2 separate regions of the Homo sapiens genome follow, and region 2 is linked to region 1. The links come from fine-mapping of genetic effects on gene expression. Tissue or cell type: whole blood. Region 1 holds a variant in brackets; the other region holds the start of a gene. All regions are shown on one strand. Distances are between the middles of the regions.

Region 1 (2,754 bases):
TGCTCCTGCCTTGGTCACCCTGAGGTGTCTGGCAGCCCCTGGGTCTTAGCCTCTTGTGTGTGTCATTCAGCCTCAAGCCACCAAACCAGACCCGGGGCCCTCTGGGAGCTTCCAGACATCCAGGACGGTGGGGAGGGGAGCTGCATTGGCCCTGGGACGCTGTCGGAGATTCAGATGTGAACCCTCCCGGCTCTTCACTCAAACCACAGCGGGCCGCTCTGATGAACTGCCTCTGGTCCACGTGCAGGTTGTGTGTGTGGCTAAGGGAGGTGGCCAGTGGCACAGCAGGTACAAGTCACAGGGAGTGACGGCAGGAGGCAGGGACAGAGCCGCCCTCTGCTAGGGGAGGAGAAGGAGGAGGAGGGTGTGGGGGCCACACACAGCCAAGGGCTGAGTCCCAAACCCTCCTCCACCCCTGCCAGACAGAAACAGAAACTTGGCCATAAATAATTGATAAGCTGCCGCCTCTGCAGAGAGGCAGGTTCAAGTGCCAGGTAACAGAGAGGGCAGCCACCCAGCGCTGGCTTCGAGGAGGGCTGTGGGAGGGCACGGGAGGAGGGGACAGGCTGCGGAGACCCCGGGCATGGTGCGGGGGAGAGGGTGCCCTCCTCACACACAGCAGGCTGGAGGACGGCTCACTGGTGGCCTGTGGGAGGGAGGAGGTGGTTCGCCTAGGGCAAGAGCCAAGTGGGGAGGGGAGGAGGTGAGGGCAGGTTAGACTCACTCGGGTGCCCGCCTGGTGCCAGAGCTAGGAACAGCTCCAAGATGGTCTCAGCCAACAGTTCTGAGCCCTGTCTGGGTCCCCTCCCCTTCCCAGGGACTCAGGAGGAAGCTTTGGCCCCTCTTCCCAGAGAGAAAGAGCCCACAGAGCCGGAGGCACTGTCCCAGGGCTCCTGGGGAGCTTCTGGGTGGGGAGATGCTGGGTTGGGTGTCGATCACTGGTCACTGTCGCCCATTCTCTGCTTTCGGGGAGCAGGGGAATGTATACAGTTTGAAAGACAGGGCTCAGCTCCCCTGCTGGACTGAGGAAGTCGAGGCCCAGGGAGGGAGAACTGGGGTCTGTCTCCTCCATCTGTCACCCTCCTTGGTAAAATTTGTGAGGGTCCTGGAGCCACTTCTCACCCACGCCACACCTACCTCGGCTGGGCCTTGGCCACTGCAACAGGGTCTCCATTGGCATGTGAGCTGGGGCCCGGCCAGCAAGGGCCCGGCTTGTTCCCCGAAGGAAAGAGCTGGAAAGAGAGCACAAGGTGTGAGTGGTCGAGGCCTGGGTCGGGCAAGCTCTGCACAGGGGAACCAGAAGTCACGCTGATGCTTTTGGCTTCACCGCGGCCACAGCAGGTCACATCGGGGCTGGCTGGGACTCCTGCAGAGGAAGAGCGGTAACGGGGAGGAAATCCACGATGGGTAGACCCGAGGCTACCAGCCTGGGCTGCGCCCGTCCTTTCCCCTTGGAAAGAGAAAGGCCACAGCCAACCCTGGTGTCCGCTCCTAGGCCCGGGCCTCCCACAGGCTGATCTGGGCAGTGGGGGCA[C/T]CACTGTGCCATGATCTCTGGCCCTGACACCACTGCAGTCTCCTGCATGCCCCTCACTGTCTTTACGGGTACAGAGAAAACACAAAGCGGGGGCAACTGCGGTGAAGTGGAGTCGTCTACCTTGGCTGAATGTGCCACAGACATCCTGTTAGGAAAGGAGTTTGCAAATATAACACGAGGGGAAAACTCCCAGTGAATACAGGGGAAAGCCTGGTAACTCCACGGCGCTTAAGCTTCTAAGCGTCAATGGTGGTTTAATTTCCATGGAAAATGTTAAGCTCCGTTACAGTGGTGACCTATGATGTCCCTCAGAAAAGAGGCAATGAGCCAGGCTGGGGACACCTGTAATCCCAGCACTTTGGAAGGCTGAGGTGGGAGGATTGTTTGAGGCCAAGAGTTCCAGACCAGCCTGGGCAACACGGCGAGACCCTGTCTGTACAAAAAAAAAAAAAAAAAATTAGCTGGGCATGGTGGCACGCACCTGTGGTCCTAGCTACTTGGGAGGCTGAGGCAGGAGGATCAACTGCTTGAGCCCGGGAGGTTGAGGCTGCAGTGAGCTGTGATTGTGCCACTGCACTCCAGCCTGGGCGACAGAGCAAGGCCCTGTCTCTAAAATTTAAATTAAATGACTCCATATGCAGATTGCAGAAGCTCCATCAGTCCAAGAGTGAGTGCAAAGGATCTATGAGAAAGTAACACCAAACCCTCCCATGACGAGACCTTGGTTTGAGGTTTGAAAGCTCTGTCTCTGCTGTGTCACCTCTGAGTCCCCTCCTCTAGCACAGTGTGTGGCCACAGTGAGGTCAGGAGGAGGTGCTGAGACGGCCCGCTCGATCCATCTTTGCTGTTCCCCGTGCCCCTGCCCATGTTGGGAGACACGGGCCTCGGCCTTCCTGCCGGGAGCCACCCGGAACCTTCCCACGGGAATGTGTTCCTTGCCTGGGTCGCCTCAACTTGCTGGGGAACGCCTCGTGTCAAAGCCAAACACGCCCAGGCCCTGGCAGTGCTGTCAGGGCGGTGCCTCCTCCCCTGGCTGGGGAAAGGCTGCTAATGCTGGTCGGGTTTGACCAGCCTGGCTGTCTGTCTGGATCCCCCCAAGTCTGGATTTCAGGGTCTTTTTCCAAGCTTGCAGTTTGGCAGCCCGTTTAGGAGGGCTAGGGGCTTCACCTGCTGGATGCCACCTAGGCACACCTGGCCCCAAACACCTTAACCATTTCCCA
Region 2 (2,627 bases), 66 kb after region 1:
CCAGCCTGGGCAACAAGAGCAAAACTCCATCTCAAAAAAAAAAAAAAAAAAAAAGATATGTTGTGATATTGTGTTGTGATATATTTTTAAAAAACCATATTTTGGTCTTAGGTTTTCTAGTACATAACTCCTAAAACCCTTGAAATCAGCTGGGCACAGTGGTTTATGCCTGTAATCCCAGCACTTTGGGAGGCCAAGACGGGATGATCCCTTGAGGTCAGGAGTTTTCGAGCAGCCTGGGCAACATAGTGAGACCCCATCTCTACAAAAAAAATTTTTTTAATGAAGACAATAAAAAAAAACTATCTTCTAGATTGTTCAGAGGATTAAATGGGCTGGCCAGGGGTGGGGGCTCACACCTGTCCTCCCAACACTTTGGGAAGCAGAGGTGGGAGGATCACTTGAGCCCAGGTGTTGGAGACCAGCCTGGACAACTTGGTGAAACTCCGTCCCTACAAAAAATACAAAAAATTAGGCCGGGCGCGGTGGCTTATGCCCGTAATTCCAGCACTTTGGGAGGCCTAGGCGGGCGGATCACCTGAGGTCAGGAGTTCGCAACCAGCCTGGCCAACATAGTGAAACCTCGTCTCTACTAAAAATACAAAAAATTAGGCAGGCGTGGTGGCGCACGCCTGTAGTCCTAGCTACATGAGAGGCTGAGGTGAGAGGATCATCTGAGCCCGGGGTCGAGGCTGCAGTGAACCGTGATCACGCCACTGCACTCCAGCCTGGGTGACAAAGTGAGACTCTGTCTAAAAAAATAAAATAAATGAGGTAATGTATACGAATATGATGCACGGAGCGGACCTTCAACAATTATTTTTATTGCTATGATCTGCATAATTGGCACAACAGGGCCCTGCCACATCGAACTGTTTAAGCTCAGAACCGTGTCTGTCACATGTGGAGCGATCCATGATTGATGCTATCATTATCACCACCATCATCCCACCAACCCGCCCATCGGAAACAAGCTTTCATCGAATCCCATCGTTTTTTCCTTTTTTGTAAATCTCTTTCCTCGGCCTGGCTCTGCCGCCCAAGTATGCTCGTCAGGCCTTTGCCCACCTGGACCGGGCGCGGGCAGCCCGGGGCTGAGGATTCTCGAGCCTTGGTGGACCACAGGCTCCCGTCGCCCCGCCCAAGGGCCTGGACCGCCTGTGGTCTCCATGGAAACCCGCCAGCCACAGGGGGCGTGACGCCGTTGAGACAGACAGAGATATTCACCTATCAGATCAAAGTTATCTGGGCAGGGCGAACAAACGGGACCTCCGAGTGGTACGTCCTTAAGGCGGGGCGGGAATACGGCAACGGGCCGCGGGGGCTGTTACTGTCGCTACCAATCAAGAGTCGAGATGGCTTTGATGGACAGGCATAGCGCGAGTGCGGGCTTTCGCCCAACCGGCGGGCCGCTGTCCCGAAAAAGGACCAATGAGGAGGCGGCAGGGGTGGGGCGAAGGGGCCGGTTGCTCCGGAAGTGGAGGGAGGGGGTGAAAATGGCGCCCAGCTCGAAATCGGAGCGGAACAGCGGGGCTGGGAGCGGCGGCGGCGGCCCCGGGGGAGCCGGAGGGAAGCGGGCAGCAGGGCGGCGGCGGGAGCACGTCCTCAAGCAGCTGGAGCGGGTCAAGGTGAGGCCTGGAGCCGGAGTGGGGAGCGCGCCGGAGGGTGGGGAGTAGGGACGAGGGAGGCGGAGGGAGGAGGGCGTTCGCGGGGTGAGGGGTTGGGGGCGGGGCCCCAGGGGAGGGGGCTCGGATGCAGGGCCTGGGCGGGGCCCGGGGGAGATGGCTTGGATGGAGGGGGCTCAGTTGGGGGCCTGGATGCAGGTGGTTGTGTCGGGTGACCGGCAAAGGGGCTGGGATGGAGGGGGTTGGGGGCGGGGCCCCAGGGAGGGGGCTCGGAGGGAGGCGACCCCAGAGGCCGCAGGGAGAATCAGGAGGAAGGGGGCGATCCAGGCTTTTCAAAGCTCTGCTCCCATGGTTGCTCCATAATGGAACCTTCCCGCCCCCTTTGCAGAGCCCCTGCCGCTGGCTTTGGGCTTCCTCCGCCTGATGTTCCTCTCCCTGCCCAAGCCCCGACCACACATGAGCTGGGAGTTCCAGTACCTGGGTGGGCCTCCCCATTGAAAGTGTGGGAGCTCCCTGGATAGGGCTGAGTCTTCCCCCGCAGAGTGAGAGTTACCGAAGCAGGCTCTGTCTCCTCCATCAGACTGGAAACTCCCAGAGCTGGGGGATGATGTCTCTCTCCCCCATCAGTTTGGGAGCTCTGGAGGGCAGAAATGTGGATCTCTTGCAGGTGGGCAGTAACTGGGGCAAGGCTGTGTCTCTGTGGACAGGGACTGCGCCTTCTCCGTGAGGCTGGTAGCTTTGTAAGGGCAGTGCTGTGTCTCCCCCTTTTGACTGGGAGCTCCCTGGGCTGGGACAGTCTCCGCCCTTAGCCTGGGAGCTCCCTGGGCTTGGCTGTGGTTCCGCCCTTAGCTTGGAAGCTCCTTGGGCAGGGACTGTGTCTCCCCTGTCGGCCTGGGCCTGGCTGGCCAGGCTGTTTCCTCCGTCAGACTGAGACCTCCATGTGGACAGGGCTGTCTCCCATCAGACAGGGAGCTTCCCAGACAGGACTCTTCCCATCAGATT

The links. PIP is the estimated chance that this variant, and not a neighbour inherited with it, causes the effect.
Region 2: it holds the start of DCAF15, and the variant in region 1 is fine-mapped to the expression of DCAF15 in whole blood (TOPMed, PIP above 0.99).

The regions. Positions count from the first base shown.
Region 1 is chr19:13,884,824-13,887,577 of GRCh38, forward strand. BRME1 (break repair meiotic recombinase recruitment factor 1) reads right to left here. Exons shown (of 9, transcript NM_001345843.2): 7 at 1,138-1,232. Among named protein-coding and RNA genes, the nearest start is that of NANOS3, 9.1 kb to the left of the region's middle. The variant C/T (reference allele first, on the strand shown) is at 1,535.
Region 2 is chr19:13,951,017-13,953,643 of GRCh38, forward strand. It overlaps DCAF15 (DDB1 and CUL4 associated factor 15), which reads left to right and starts at 1,493. Exons shown (of 13, transcript NM_138353.4): 1 at 1,493-1,628. The coding sequence starts at 1,497. It also overlaps a transcript of PODNL1 not described here. RefSeq lists an enhancer at 866-915 and a silencer at 1,576-1,715.